Linked DNA regions of Homo sapiens. The protein of the gene in region 4 interacts with the protein of the main gene of each other region in a pairwise test. Each region holds a gene or a part of one and is shown on either strand. Other genes may lie near its edges.

Evidence for each region. The genes of interacting proteins can lie anywhere in the genome.
Region 1: the proteins of U2AF2 (region 4) and SUGP1 interact in binary tests that used the Homo sapiens proteins (3 or more experiments, as listed by UniProt).
Region 2: the proteins of U2AF2 (region 4) and ARGLU1 interact in binary tests that used the Homo sapiens proteins (3 or more experiments, as listed by UniProt).
Region 3: the proteins of U2AF2 (region 4) and ZNF71 interact in binary tests that used the Homo sapiens proteins (3 or more experiments, as listed by UniProt).

What each region holds. Positions count from the first base shown.
Region 1 is NC_000019.10:19,303,510-19,307,009, forward strand, and holds part of SUGP1 (SURP and G-patch domain-containing protein 1), read right to left. Parts: intron 2,568-3,500; coding exon 2,340-2,567; intron 339-2,339; coding exon 215-338; intron 1-214.
Region 2 is NC_000013.11:106,565,338-106,569,389, forward strand, and holds the start of ARGLU1 (arginine and glutamate-rich protein 1), read right to left. Parts: upstream 2,801-4,052; 5' UTR 2,583-2,800; coding exon 2,236-2,582; intron 1-2,235. UniProt on the Homo sapiens protein: Dual function regulator of gene expression; regulator of transcription and modulator of alternative splicing. General coactivator of nuclear receptor-induced gene expression, including genes activated by the glucocorticoid receptor NR3C1.
Region 3 is NC_000019.10:56,622,144-56,624,986, reverse strand, and holds the end of ZNF71 (endothelial zinc finger protein induced by tumor necrosis factor alpha), read right to left. Parts: coding exon 2,230-2,843; 3' UTR 501-2,229; downstream 1-500. UniProt on the Homo sapiens protein: May be involved in transcriptional regulation.
Region 4 is NC_000019.10:55,665,035-55,669,946, forward strand, and holds part of U2AF2 (splicing factor U2AF 65 kDa subunit), read left to right. Parts: intron 1-3,472; coding exon 3,473-3,552; intron 3,553-3,635; coding exon 3,636-3,758; intron 3,759-4,048; coding exon 4,049-4,147; intron 4,148-4,409; coding exon 4,410-4,658; intron 4,659-4,912. UniProt on the Homo sapiens protein: Plays a role in pre-mRNA splicing and 3'-end processing. By recruiting PRPF19 and the PRP19C/Prp19 complex/NTC/Nineteen complex to the RNA polymerase II C-terminal domain (CTD), and thereby pre-mRNA, may couple transcription to splicing.

The DNA.
Region 1 (3,500 bases), about 36 Mb from region 4:
TGCAGCTTCTATCGTGCAAAAAAAGGCAGGCTGGCGAGCAGGGACCCGAAAGCAAGTCTCCGTGCCACATGGGAGCCACTTGTCACTTCTGGTGAGAATCAGAAAACGCTTGGAACAGCATCCGGCCCACACTAGCAAGCACCCAGCCCCACACGTGCGACTGTGCAGCAAACGCATTCAACAGCACAGCCTTCCCTTCCCCGGAGATACTCACGCAAATGCTGGGTTATCCTTGTAGTCCTCCATAGCTACTTTTTCTAACTCGGGGCCTCCTTCTGCCACAAAGCGGGCCAATTTCTCTATCACTTTCCGAGTCTCGGCTCCCTCTGGGGGTGAAACTTTAAGGAGGCTGTCAGTACTGGGGTTCAACTCACACACCCCACAGTCAATAGGCACACTCTCTCTATGGACCACAACGACAGAGGGGGTGGGGGGAGAAGAGTGTGAGATGCAGGAGGCTGTCGGGCGTCCCGAGTCCAGGCACAAAACACCATGACGAGGGGGGAGTCGGTCTCACTGTCTTGGTGAGACACACTAGGTGGGAGAGAAGTGTGTGAGGCTGTGGTGAGCTCCAGGCTGGAAGCTAGCAGAAAATATATCCAGCTTCCCCTGGTTTTGGTGGGGGAAATGCTTAATTCTTTTCTTTCTTTACCAGTTTTCAGCATAATACATCGGTTCCCTTTCATCCTTCAAAGATGACACGTTCTTTTTTAAAAAATACCATTATGAGCTCTGATTTAAACACACTGGGTGGGTTTCGATCCATGGCAACTAGTGTCATCATAGAAGCTCTGCGGCCGGTGGAACCTCTTCAAGCTGGCTCCTGAGGGCTCTGGACATGGCCCCAGGAGTCTCTGATGGCCTCCTTGCCATCTGCCAGGACAGGCGCTCCAAGATCATCTCATACACTTCCTGCCCAGACCCAGAGCCAGCCACTTCTCCAAGAAGTCGGTTTCCATGAGAAACTGCATCTCCAGACCAGCATCTGGGAGCTAGGGATGCTCAATGCCACAGGCTTAATCATTATTTCGGGGCCTTTTCAGTGAACAGAGCTATAAAGATATATTTTTATATACGGATTAGCCTCCCCACTGAGCCATGTGGAACTTGCTTTTGCATTTTTCCCTTGGCCTGTTTCTGAGGCTGTGAGTTTGTCAGCTACTACACAGACTGCAGTCCTTGTAGGAGATGCACAAGAGAAATTTCTCGCTGCCAGCAAGTGCCTGGCAACTGGGCAACATGCCAGACCTGTGGCTAATCTTATTCCCCTTGTTGCTTGGGCTGCTGGGAATGGGGGAGAGGTGGGGAGTGTGTAGCCCAACGAGGGCCCCTGTGAGGTCCCGAGAGCATTCCGTGACTGTCTTTCACCCTAGGTCGCCCTCCTGCCATGGGCCCAGCAACAATCCTGACCTGGTTGCTGTTTACAGGAACAGGTGCGTTTCTGAGGCCATGCAGACAGTGGGTCATAATGGGCTTCAAGGGCCCCGAGATGGCCAATACCCCTTGTAATGCAGCAGTTCCCAACAGGGTACCCTTGGAGCTGCTGGGGCACCCCTTTAAGGAAAGGACACACGCCAGCTCCATTCTAATGGCCCGGGGGCCAAGCTGGCCTCTGATCCGCTCGGACACACAGCCAGAAGCAAGGGATCTCAAGGCTGTCATGGCACAACTCCACAGTCGCTTCAGTCTGTGCTGTCAGGGTGATGTGACCTCACCGGCTAGCCCTTCACACAGTTCAGGTGTCACAGGGACTCGTCCTGAATGTGGACAGGGCTGGACTTGCTGGCAATGCTGTCACCACAGCCACCCCCCTTTGCCCTCCTACACTGGGCGGTCTGGACAAGCTCACCCGTGACCAGTGACCGTCCTTTCCCAGGGATAGAAGAGAGCACCCTCCAACCTGCAGCTCATACCTCTGGCCTAAACTCAGGGGACAGGTAACCCATGGTGAGGGGCAGTGCTTTGGGGCCTCAAGGGCTCAGCGGAAGAGCCTTAGAAGCTCCTCCTAGAAGGGATGTGAGGATGCCCTTTTGGAGCAAATGCGAGAAGGGCGTGCGCCCCTGCCTTGGCTGGGATGAGCCGCTGTGTGAGTGGAAGATGGATCCCGCTGCTCCCAAGATGAAGCCCACGCGCTGATGCCCAGCAACACCCCAGCCCCGCCCCTCACCCTCCTTTGCTCTCCTCACCTCAGAGGGCCTGAGGCTCAGCTCAGAGGTCTGGTGGCTGCAACTCAGCCGAAAGCACCCATGCCCCTGGCAGCACTTGCCCTGCCCACCACAGATCCCACCTGCTAGAGCACGGGCACTGGTGGTGGGGGAGCAGCAGCTCCCACAACTTACCTTTGATCTCCAGCCACTGCTCATAGTCCTCCTCCTCGTCCTCGTCAGGGGACTGGAAGACACTCGGGCGGTGCGCCACGGGCAGCTGCTTGGCGTGGGAGTAGCTCTTCACAGGGCCCGGCAGGCTGGCCAGCCCCAGGCCTGTCCGCCTGCTGATGAGCAGGGACCTCTTCCCAGCGCTGGGGGTGGGTGTGCTGGGAGGGGCGCTGGGCGCACTGGTCGGGGCGTCTGGTATAGAAGGAAGGATATGCGCACTCGGGATCTGCAGGGCACCTCTCCCGGCTTCCGACCTAACCTAGGTGCTGTGGGCCCCGGGGGAGCTGGGTCCTTGACTTCCAGAACTCAGGGGCTCAGAGGAGGCCACCCTGATTTTACAGATGGGGACAGTGAGGCAAAGAGCAAAAGGACTCGTTGTGGTCCCCCAGCCAGAAAAGCAGCAGCCTGGGGCTCTGAAGTGGGCCGCTGTGGCTGGAGGCATCTCGGTCGCGCTGCACCCACAGACTGGGGACAGTTCTGGGGACAGAACGTCAGTTCTGCCGGGTAAGACCCGAGTCCCCGAATCCCAGTTTACAACCATTCCCTTGGAGGTCTGTGGCCAGGCTGACTGGCCAGGGGCCAGCCTACTGGGTGTTCTCAGCCTGACACCTGATGGGGAAGGGACTCAAACCAGCCTTCCTCATTCTAGGATGAATTTGGCCTTGGGTTAACTTTTCTTAGCTGTTCCCTGGGAAACCTGACAGAGGTCGAAGACCAGCTGTCTCACCAGCAACAATGGGCTCTGGTCGGTAAACCCCAAAATCAGAGACATGGGCAGAAGCTCCACGGGTGACGATTTACCCACCTGGCATATCACACTGCACACCTGTAGGCGACCAACCTACAGACAGGGGTCCCATTCCTTGCACAGGCATTGCTGCCCACTGGAGAAGGCCGGGAATCCCCTGGGGCACTGACAAGGGGGCCAGGTGAGGACCTGGAGACCAGCCATTCTAGCCCACACTTTGGTGTCCAGAGGACCTACAGTGCAGAAGCACCCACAGCAAGGCAGGGGATGGGGCAAGGCTGGTGTGTGACAGCTTCAGGAAGAGCCCTGAGTCTGGTGGGGAGCAGCATCATGAAATTGGCCAGCTCACCACCCTGAGAGCAGGACTAGGGCCCCCG
Region 2 (4,052 bases), on a different chromosome or scaffold from region 4:
TCTTTTCTGTGCTCCACATATGTCCTATACCTTGCCTGACATTGTCATATTCTTATATCCTCCACCCACACAGGATACTTCCTTTATACAGTTTATATTACTGTCACTAAATTTACTACACTGTATTATTGCCTATTTAATGATCTGTCTTTGAGCTAGATCAAGCTCTTGGAGAAGGGCCAATCATCTTTATATTAACAGTACCTAGCACAGTGCCTGGCACTTATTAAATGCTCAATAAACATCAGTTAAATGAATAAAATAACCAACAGGATATGTAGACTGCAAACTGTTTCCTTACACTGCCAAAGCTCCAACACTTAAGTCTTTCCATTGTTTCTTTTGCATTGTTTCCAAGACATTAGAATATATTAAATAAAATGCCTATTGTACGGCACCCAGGAATTTAGAGTACAGGTGGCTGCTAGTCCTGGTCCCTTCTCCCTCCTAAATACTATTGGCAGTTTGTGTCTTCTCTCAAACCAGAGAACCATATAGCTCCTCTATTTGCCGTATTTCATTCCTGAATTTCTTGTCTGCTATACATGCGAAACCTGCTAAATGCTTCTATTTATTCTTTGCATACCAAGTTTCTTTTCATTTTTCCTACATATCTTAGCTTTCTAGTGAAAGGCAAGTTATTACTCTTTGGAGGTCTCCTTTGTTTTCACATGTAGAAATTATCTCAGCAATGTCTTAGGTAACTTTTCATACATCCATCTGTTGATAGCTATTTGAGATCTTTACAGCTAAGGGCCTTGTTGCAGACCCAAAAGTTGTATTCTACAAAATCAAGGTTTAATTTGAAACGATTACTTGAACTTTGTTTTCATATGTATCACTGACAGTTCTAAGTACAGGAAAAATGAGTGTTGCATGTGTTTTAAAGGAGTGTTGGAAGCAAAACAGCTCCAGGTACAGCTTCCTCTGTAATATTAGTGCTCCAGTCCTACCTTTTAGTAACTTTGGTTTTAGAAACAAGCTGTGTGTGTGTGCTGGAAAATCTACCTAACACAAACCCAACTACAGAAAACTACAAACCACGCAGTCAATTCAGCACACATATACTCGCCTCGAGAAAATCATAAATTCAGTAACGTTCTTGCTTCATGAGCACTTTCTAAATATTCACTGAAGAACTGACCAAGTACGGCTGGTTCAATAGGGAGTTAGTAGGACTGTTCAAATCTACTTTTCAATGCGGTTTTTGGAAACTGAATACCCAGAGCATCAAAGTACGATGATCATAAAGCAAAACACACAACAAATCCCTAAATTTTAAAACCCAAAAATTCCTTTAGTTTGGGATTATTTATCCACATCTACTTTCATAGCCAGAAATACTTGAGAGCTGACATTTTCGGAAACACACTCTAACTCTAGTTTTCACTAAATATCCTTCATGGGAGCAACGCCAAAATAAAATCAACCCTTCAAGTGTCTTCTGAAGAAGCACAGTGTAAGGGAAACAACAAAACTGCACGTGTTTGCTACAGGAATAGAAAGCAAGTTAAAAAAGCGGTAGGCTTTGGGATGGTGATTACACAGGTGAATTCAAAGGTCAAAAAACTCATCGCACTGTACACTTAAGGTCTATGCTTTTTTTTTTTAACATCTCAAGGAAGGGGTGAGGGTGTAGGCTCAAGGGGAAAAAAGCAATCCCAACACCTTAACAACAGGAATACACTAAAGTGAAAATGCATTTTTCTGGCGGACCACCTAAAGTGTATGATTCCCGAGATTAGTTAAGTCCTGTCCCAAATTTGAGCTTCAATAGAATGCTTCTGGCCAGCTGTGATTCGCATCTCAAAGGTTAATTCCCTTCTCTCTCCTCCTCAAGCCGACCAGCAAACGCTCACCACCCTCCACATCTGCAGGCCGGCTCGCTCCCGGCCTCACAAGCCAACGCAGCTCTCCGACCTCACTCCGAACTCCACCCCTACTTCCGGGACACCACTCCTCTCTCGCGCCAAAATCGCCTTCTCTTAAACCCTTTCTGCTCAAGCCCTCGAATTTTCCATCCCGAACAACTTCTGGGTCTGTCCCACCCCAAGCTTTCCAAACGCCAAGCCTGCCCGCCCCGCCGCCGCCTCTCCGACCCGTTCCCGCGCCCGGTCCCCAGCCCCGGACCGTCCCCGCCATTCTCCCGGCCCGCACCGTCCCGCCCCGGCCCCACGCCCTCGCCCCGCGCCCTGCTCTCCGCACGCCCCGGTCCCTCCCCGCGCGGGCACTCACATTTTTCGCTGCCGCTCGAACTCCGCTTTCTTCTCCTCCTCCTCTCGCTTCTGCTTCTCGTCCAGGCTGCTGCGCTTGCTCACCGTGCGCCCGAAGATGTCGATGCGGTCGGGCGGGGACGAGGCGCGCTCCCGGTCCCGCTCGCGCCGGGACACGGCCGTGTTGGTGGAGCGCGAACGGGACCGCGACTCCCGCCGCCGGTTCCGTTTACTTTCCCGAGATTTGGAACGCTTCCGCACGCGCTCCTTGTCCCGGGATCGCGACCGGGACCGGCTGCGCTTCTTGTTGTGCTTGCTGCTCTTGGTGTGCTTGGAGCGGGACGAGCTCCGGCTCCGAGACCGGCCCATCCTTCCGGGAGACGCTCTAACCGCTCGCCTCAGGCCCCTCACGCGGCCAGTTCCCCTCGCCTCCGCCTTCGGACGCGGGCTGGCGGTTCTACCGAGGCCGGAGGAAAGAAAGGTGTCGGCCAACGGACTTTATGCCTTTTCCCGGCGTCTACAGCTGCCACGAAGGCCGCCTCCAACGAGAAACCCGTAGCGCCAGGCGCCCCTAAGATGGCAGCTGCGGCTGCACCGGCCGCCCTTCCCACAATGCCCTGCGCGAAACGTGCCGAAGCGTGGGCCCCGCCTCCTGACGATTTTTGCCGAAGGCAGGCGAGCGCTTCGGAGCGGACTCGTTTTTTTCCGCCAGTCTTGGCGGAAGCCTGAGACGCAATAGATGGAGACTCTCCTTTTCGCCTTGGCGTACTCTTTTTTTTTTTTTCCTCCCTGGTAAGATGCCAACGCCTGTTGAATGAATTAAGCACGTTTTAGTGGGATTTAAGTCCGGCCTCGCAGAAGTTGATTGATTGCATTATTTTCTAGGAGCTGGTCTTGTGGGGCAGCCCTAAAATGTATCTCCAAGTGACCCTGCACTCATCACTTGCTGCCTTGGACTTAGTTTCCTCATTCGTAGAATGGAGACACCACACTTTCTGAAGTGCTTATGAGACTTGCAGGAGGTAAGTAGGCAGCAGGTTTTGATGAATGTAACCTAATGCTTACTATAGGGCTTAATGTGCCTTCTAAATGCTTTAATGTATTAACAAGTGCTTAATTCTTACAATTCTGAATTAAGTACTACTATTATCCACGTTTCAGAGATGAGGACCCTGAGGTCCACAGAGGTTAAATAAGGGTCACACAACCAGTAGGTGACAGAGCAGGGACGTGAACCTAGATCATATTGTGCAAAGCCCTTGCACATAACCAGCAAGCCCTCCTCAACCCTAGCCACGAAAAGCTTCGTCCCTATGTGGCACAACAAACTGTGTCATTGTTAAGACCTAAAAGGAAAAGGCAATGTTAATATTTGCAGATGACAGGAACCCTTGAAAATCTAGGTGCCTCAATTTTAAAATTGAGTGCAATAATAAAGCTTAAGTAAGTAGAAGAAAAATTAGAATTATTTGAATAAGCAAAAACATATTAAAAATGAAATAATATTTCCTCCACAATGGCAACAGAAACCATAAAATACTTAGGGATAAACTTTAACAAGTTACACAATCTTTATTATAAACCTTTACTGAAAAGGCAGTAATAAGGCCCTAGTAAATGTAAAACATGCTGTATTCTTAGGTGAGTAGTCAGTATCAAAAATACTGTCAATTCTTCCCAAGTCAAATTACAAAATTAGTGCAATTCTCATGAGAGTCCCAAATTCTCTTGGGGATATGTGTTTTAGAACTAATTAATTTTAAGTTTTATATGGAAGATCACATAATTAATTATCAAGAAAACTTGGAAACAAAGAAGAGTAGTGTATTAGTCTGTGTT
Region 3 (2,843 bases), 960 kb from region 4:
CCCTCCACATCAGCTTGGGTTGCAGAGAAAAGAAACAGGAGGGACCTGAGAGGTGGCCCGGCTGGTTCTCTGGATGGGAGAGGGGGATGGTGGTGGTGCAGCCTCGATCCCATCTCTGCTTCACACACTGGGGAGTCCAGGAAACCAAGGCCAGGAGTCAAGTCCTGAGAAATTCAATATGTCCATCTCTAGAAGTAGTCCAGTGTAGGCAAGGAGCACGGACCTCGGAGCCCAGGTGGACCCCAGCTCACACCCTGTCCCCTCCACTTCCATGTTGTGTGCCCTCAGGAAGCTTACCTTGCCTCACTGAACCTCAGATTCCTTATCTATACGACATGCACATGAATCCCTACCTCGAGGATCTTGTGAGGGTTAAATGAGCCATTTCATCTCTCCAAAGGGCCTTAGAAGGTCTTCCCCTCCATTTTGCTGCTAAAGAGTAGTAAAATCTTGTGTACATATTAGCTAACATTTGTTGACTGTTTTAACACTCCATTCTCTGCAGTGCATACATATTCTCATTTATTCCCACAACAGATGCAACTAAAGCAATGTCTGATCAAGACTCGCTGCTGGAAACCACCACAATCCCACGTGGGAAGCCAGCCTGAGGATGATGTTAAGAAGTATGAAGGGAGAGCCAGAGCATCACAGAGAACCACAGCTATGGCTCCAATGATGAGAGCCTGAATCAAACCCACCCTGAGGCCCACTTGACTGCCAGAATTTGAAAAACGGTCCACCTTGTTTATACGTGCCCGAGTGGCTGTTTTTCTTATTTGCAGAATGTGCTTGCTGATATAATTTTTTTTCTGTATTATTTATTTGTGTACACCAGTGTCAGGGAGTGTGGAACAACTGGAAATGCCAGAACATTAGCAACCAGTAGTATCAAATAACAAAATTAAAAGTATGGCCTAAAAGGCCCCAGAGAAAGTGCACTTTGGGGAACACTCTTATGTGTAAACAGAGCTTCAGTCGGCCTTAGGAAACTCACTCGAAGTTACTGATATGGTCTGTTGGTGCTTCCCTGTATTCACATATTGGAAACTTGATCCCCAATGTAACAGTATGAAGAGGGAGGACCTTTGGGAGGTCATGAGGTCAGGGCCCTTGTGACTGGGATTAGCACCCTTATAAGGGGCCTGAGGAAGTCTGCCGTTTACAACCACGTGAAGACACACATCAAGACACAAGCACTACCTATGAAGAACATACCCCATCAGACACCAAATCTGCCAGAGCCTTGATCTTGGACTTCCCAGCATCCAGAACCATGAGTGACAAATTTCTATTGTTTATAAATTACCCAGTCTAAGGTCTTTTGTTACAGCAGCAGGAAGGGACTTAAGACAGTTGCCTTCACATTTAGCTGCAAAAATCACTATAAAAATAATCTGTGCTCAGATGTATATACTTATTGAATCCATGCATATTTCTTTCTGAATATCAAACCTGCTGCTGTTTCTTTTCCTTCTTGCCCCTCCCACAATCACTGAAGCCGATTTTGACCAGACAACTGGCCAAAACAGAAGACTGTTTAAAATAACATAGTCTCCCTTAATTAAAAGTTTTATTTTTAAAAAACGTAACAGACCACTCTAAGAAACTTTGGCATTCAAAGCAGTAGTTACTGTTATTTGCTAACTCTGAAAAAAAAATTTTTCCCCTCACAAACAACCGGCAAACTCCTGCCACTTCCTAGCTTGGTGGCTGCCAGCGTGCACTGCAGGGAAACGGTGGGTGGAGGGATAGGAAGGCCCTCACGCTCCCAACCCACGGAGAAAATGCAGATGGTGACAAGCTGCATCTGGACTCCAGGATGTATCTGACAAAGAGGGAGATGTCTCCTCCCTCCCCTCCACCAGCTCCACTTTCCCGCTGAAGAAACAGAGATGTGGAGGCAGGCGTGACCTGTCCCAGCTCTAGGACAGTTACTCAAGAGGGCTAGTCTGGAACCCTGATGTCTGTTACCAGCGGCCATGGCTCAGCTACAGTGAACCTTGAAGTGTCCCCAGATACGTCAGACACCGAGGGGCTTGCTTTCTGAGGCTCAGTAAGGAGGGGGCATGTGTGATCAGCCAGCCCCTCCACAACCCCACATTCCTGAGCTCCCCTGACCCCGAGTCCCCACCCCAGGGGAGAACTTCTCACAGCACTGCTGACAAAGCGCGCAGCCATCTGGCGTCCGTCCTGGGCACCGCCAGTGAGAGCCCTGCACAGAGGCGCTCAGGTGTGAATCCGCAGGTGGCGCGTCAGGTTCGTGTTGCGGCTGAAGGTCTTCCCGCACTCGCCGCATCGGTAGGGCTTCTCGCCCGTGTGGATCCGCTGGTGCACAGTGAGGGAGGAGTTCTTGATGAAGGACTTCCCGCACTGGCCGCACCTGTACGGCTTCTCGCCGGTGTGGATCCGCTGGTGCTCGATGAGGTAGGCGCTCTGGCTGAAGGCCTTGCCGCACTCGCCGCACACGTAGGGCTTCTCCCCGGTGTGCACGATCTGGTGCACGATGAGGGACGAGCGCCCCGTGAAGTGCTTCTTGCAGATGTAGCACTCGTAGGGCTTCTCGCCGGTGTGGATGCGCTGGTGCTGCGTGAGCGAGGAGTTCTTGCTGAAGGCCTTGCCGCACTCGCTGCACTCGAACGGCTTCACGCCGATGTGGAAGCGCTGGTGCTGGATGAGGTAGGAGCTCTGGCTGAAGGCCTTGCCGCACTCGCCGCACACGTAGGGCTTCTCGCCGGTGTGGTTCCTCTGGTGCAGGGTGAGCGAGGAGCTCTTGTTGAAGGCCTTGCCGCACTCCTTGCAGGCGTACGGCTTCTCCCCGGTGTGCGTGCGCTGGTGCTCGG
Region 4 (4,912 bases):
GGGTTTTGGTAAATTCAGCTAACCTTTTGGAGCCTGTAATATATGTTGACATGCTCCCAATCGACATGGACTTTTTACGTATGGGTGCGTTTCCCCGATCAAGCTGCAGAATGTCTTCCCCACGTCTCTTCCTGGTGAATCCACTGCGTTTTCATTCATTTTAAGTCCCATGAGTGGCCCGCCACTTGCTGGTGCTTAGTGTGTGTCAGGCGCTGTCCTAAGTGCCCTCCATGCACGGCAGTTCTACGACACAGGGATTGGCGCTGTCCTAAGTGCCCTCCATGGACGGCAGTTCTACGACACAGGGATTGGCGCTGTCCTAAGTGCCCTCCATGCACGGCAGTTCTACGACACAGGGATTGGCGCTGTCCTAAGTGCCCTCCATGGACGGCAGTTCTACGACACAGGGATTGGCGCTGTCCTAAGTGCCCTCCATGGACGGCAGTTCTACGACACAGGGATTGGCGCTGTCCTAAGTGCCCTCCATGGACGGCAGTTCTACGACACAGGGATTGGCGCTGTCCTAAGTGCCCTCCATGCACGGCAGTTCTACGACACAGGGATTGGCAGGTTACAACTGAGAGTCCAACGCTGGCCCACTGCCTGTTTTTTGTTTTTTTGTTGTGTTTTTTGAGACGGAGTCTTGCTGTGTTGCCCAGGCTGGAGTGCAGTGGTGTGATCTCGGCTCACTGCAACCTCCGCCTCCCAGGTTCAAGCGATTCTCCTGCCTCAGCCTCCCGAGTAGCTGGGATTACAGGCATGTGCCACCACACCTGCTAATTTTTTGTGTTTTTAGTAGAGATGGGGTTTCACCATGTTGGCCAGGCTGGTCTCAAACTCCTGACTTTGTGACCTGCCTTGGCCTCCCAAAGTGTTGGGATTATAGGCGTGAGCCACTGCTCCCGGCCACTGCCTGTTTTTGTAAGTAAAGATGGATGGCGGTGCAGCTGGCCTCACTGTGCAGCGCCTCCTTCCTGGGTAGGGACGTGTGGTGGGCCTTGGGGAATAGGAACCGTGGGTTATGGATCTAAGGTTGCTTCTCTTACCAGGCTGAGGAGCTTGACTCTTCTGAAGGTGATGGGGTGCTCTGGCAGGGGCTGAGCTGAGGGCAACCCAGTGATAGTGGCTGCCGAGCTCCTCTCAGGCGCCCCCTGCACCAAGATGGCCTGGTCACCATGGGAGGGGACATTGCTCCATCTTACAGATGAGGAAAGAGCTTCGGGACAATGGGGATCCCTGCTGGGTCTTCCCCACACAGCCTCTGCTCCAGGTGTGATGCTTTGTAGATGCAGCCGCTGCAGAGGTATGGGGCCCTGTTTCCCCGCCCAACTCTTGGAACATCCCTGCCAAGCAGGGCTTGTCCTCAGTGATGAGTGGAGGAACTCAAGACTCCGAGAAGATTCCTTTGAAGTTGTTGTCATGTAACAGCGGCTGACCCCACTGACAGTGCTCACAGTGTGTGTCTGGGCTGGGTGGGTCCTGTTGTGGGCATTGAGTCTGGCAGATGCCCGGGCCATGGGGACTGCCGTGCCTGTTCTCACGTCCTCGATTGAATCAGCACTTGGCCTGAGCTGTTCTCACACACGTGGCTCACACGATGGGCACCAGGGTTCTTCCCATTCTACAGATGAAGACACTGAGGCCCTTGGAGGCTCATATGGTACAAACAAGACTTGAACCCAAGGAGCCATGAACCCAGGGAGCCCAACTCTTGTATCCTTGGCTCTGTGTTGCTCAAGTGAGACGGGCAGAGCCAGGGCTCGCGGCTGAGCTTCCAGTGTGACCCATTCTTCCTTGGACCCAGGCAGAGCCTGCAGCCTGCCATGCTGCCTGTGGGGAGTCACAGCTGAGTGTGGGCTCTGGAGGCTGCCTTTTTCCTGCCTGTGTGTCTTTGCTCTGTGCCTCAGTTTTTGCCTTCTGTGCTGTATGTATAGCATTGCAGTAGGAGGTTGAAAGTCTTACAGGATGCCTGGCCCATGGGGTGAGTGCCCGGTGTGTGTTCCTGCTCCCGGGCTGCTGCTACTTGTCCCTGTAGCATAGGAGCTGGGTCTCCTGGGGTCTGTGTGGCCCCAGTCTGGTGGTTGGAGCTGGCTGGGTTGGTGCTTCCAGTTCTGTGGGGGCAGCGTCATCATGGGCTGGAAGGGCTTGAGTGAGTAGGTGGGAGAGGGTGTGTGGGGGCATCTCCCCTCCTTCCATGGGCACAGCGGCTCATGCTTCTGAGGCTCTTTCCCATTTCCTGTCTTACCTATTCCTTCCCAGCATCAGGATGGAGGTGGGATGGGGCCACTCACACTTGGTGTGGAGGCTGCAGAGGAAGGGGAGGCCATATGGCCTAGGTTTTGAACTTGGGAGTCAGGCTGGTTGGTTACCGGGGCCTGGCATAGCTGATATCTGACAGGACGGCGTCAAGTTACATTGGCAGAGCCTGTGGGGTCTCAGGTTGAATCATCCCACCAGCAGGCACTTGTCTGTGAGTCCAGAGTTCAGTGGATAGGGCAGGATCGAGGGCCAGTAAATTCAGCTGATAAGCCCCCACTCTGGTATGTCAGCCCTCGAAGACACTGGATCCTGCATCCCACAGTCAGCCCACAGTTCCCAGTGAGATCAGAGCAGCTAATGCTGCGGATGCTGTTCTGAGACTTCCCGGGCAGCCGCGGCTGCTCATCGTGTCGTGCCACCCCTGTGAGGGCAGTTGCACCCCTGCAGTGGCACCTGCAGTTCTGACAGGGCGTGAAGGGAAGGGACTGAGCTTTTTTTTTTTTTTCCTTTGAGATGGAGTCTCACTCTGTTGCTCAGGCTGGAGTGCAGTGGAGTGATCTCGGCTCACTGCAACCTCCGCCTCCTGGGTTCACGCCATTCTTCTGCCTCAGCCTCCTGAGTAGCTGGGACTACAGGTGCACGCTACCACAGCCCGCTAATTTTTGTGTTTTTAGAGAGACGGGGTTTCACCATGTTGGACAGGATGGTCTTATCTCTTGACCTTGTGATCTGCCCGCCTTGGCCTCCCAAAGTGCTGAGATTACAGGCGTGAGCCCCCGCGCCCGGCCGGGACTGAGCTTTAATGGGAGCCTTGCCTGGGTGGCTGTCAGAGAAGGGGTGGGGTGTGTTGTGACTCACCAGTAGGTCCCGAGCCCAGGTGACCTGCCAGCATTCCACAGCAGCAGGTAGCAGATGTGGGTGTGAACTTTGTGCCTTTGGAGCGTTCTGGAGGATGTTCTAGTTTGAGGTTCCCCTGAGGCTGGGCAGATTTGGGAGACATGGTGCGTTCTCCCCGAGGAGCCTCTGTGTGCCACTGCCCAGGACCCTCACTGGTCAGATAAGGCTGGGGTGGGGTGGGCACGTGGCGACCCCTCCCTCGTCAGATCAGGCAGGAAGTGTTCTCTTTGGCAATTGAGGAGCTCGCCGTAGACTGTCCAGGTTTTGGGAGATAACCTGGTACTGGAATTGAAGTCCTCCTCTTCTCTACCCATAGGGGTTGTGTCCACTGTGGTCCCCGACTCTGCCCACAAGCTGTTCATCGGGGGCTTACCCAACTACCTGAACGATGACCAGGTAACTTCCCTGCCTCCCTCCAGACCCGTCCCCCCACCCCGCCCCACCTCATCCCAGCCCTGATGGACTCTCGGCTACTGCAGGTCAAAGAGCTGCTGACATCCTTTGGGCCCCTCAAGGCCTTCAACCTGGTCAAGGACAGTGCCACGGGGCTCTCCAAGGGCTACGCCTTCTGTGAGTACGTGGACATCAACGTCACGGATCAGGTGAGTCCCCGGTCGCTGGCCGCTGCCGCGTCTGTCCTTCCCTGCCCTGCGCTGTTGCCAAGCCATGGTCTCCCCTCCTCAGGGGACGGGGCGGGAGGCGGCCAACCTGAGGCAGTGCCCTGTGTGTGGGCTCGTCCCTGTCCCATGGCGTTGGCTTTTTCCAGGCTCTTAATCCCCTTTGCCTTCCCCTCTTCCCCCACCAATGCCCCGGCTTGGGGGTAGGTGTCGGGCTCCTGGTCCCTGACCCCACCTCTCCCCGCACCCCCCGACCCCTCATCCTCCAAACACAGGCCATTGCGGGGCTGAACGGCATGCAGCTGGGGGATAAGAAGCTGCTGGTCCAGAGGGCGAGTGTGGGAGCCAAGAATGCCACGCTGGTGAGCCCCCCGGCACGTCATCTTCCATTGGCTTGAGGGACCCTGGGGGTGGGAGGGGCTGGCTAGTAGGGGACAAGTGTTCCTGATCTTTCTCCCAGCTTTCATGGGAAGGCATTTGGGGGGCATTCAGTGCAGTGTTGGGGAGTCGGGCTTTAGGTGTTGGAAGTGGAGAGATGGCCTTTCCCCTGGGGGGGCATGTGAGGGGCCTAGGCTTGAGCAGAGGGAGACTGGGTCTGGGCCCCCTGTGACGCCGCTGCCTCCCCTGGCCCCACAGAGCACCATCAATCAGACGCCTGTGACCCTGCAAGTGCCGGGCTTGATGAGCTCCCAGGTGCAGATGGGCGGCCACCCGACTGAGGTCCTGTGCCTCATGAACATGGTGCTGCCTGAGGAGCTGCTGGACGACGAGGAGTATGAGGAGATCGTGGAGGACGTGCGGGACGAGTGCAGCAAGTACGGGCTTGTCAAGTCCATCGAGATCCCCCGGCCTGTGGACGGCGTCGAGGTGCCCGGCTGCGGAAAGGTCAGGAGGCCTCGGGCTCAGTGCTCTCTCACCCTCTGCCCCTCCTCTTCTCCGCGCCCTCTTTCTTCCTCTCTTGCTCCCTCACCCTCTCCCCCTCCTCTTCTCCGCGCGCTCTTTCTTCCTCTCTCTCTCCTCTCGCAGCGCGTGCGTATAGGTGTATGCCATCACTGAGTGCCGCCCTCAGGCCGGGCCATGGGAGATGTTGGTGACCCTGAGGGGTTTGTGGCCCTGTGGGGGCCCAAGACCTGCAGGCG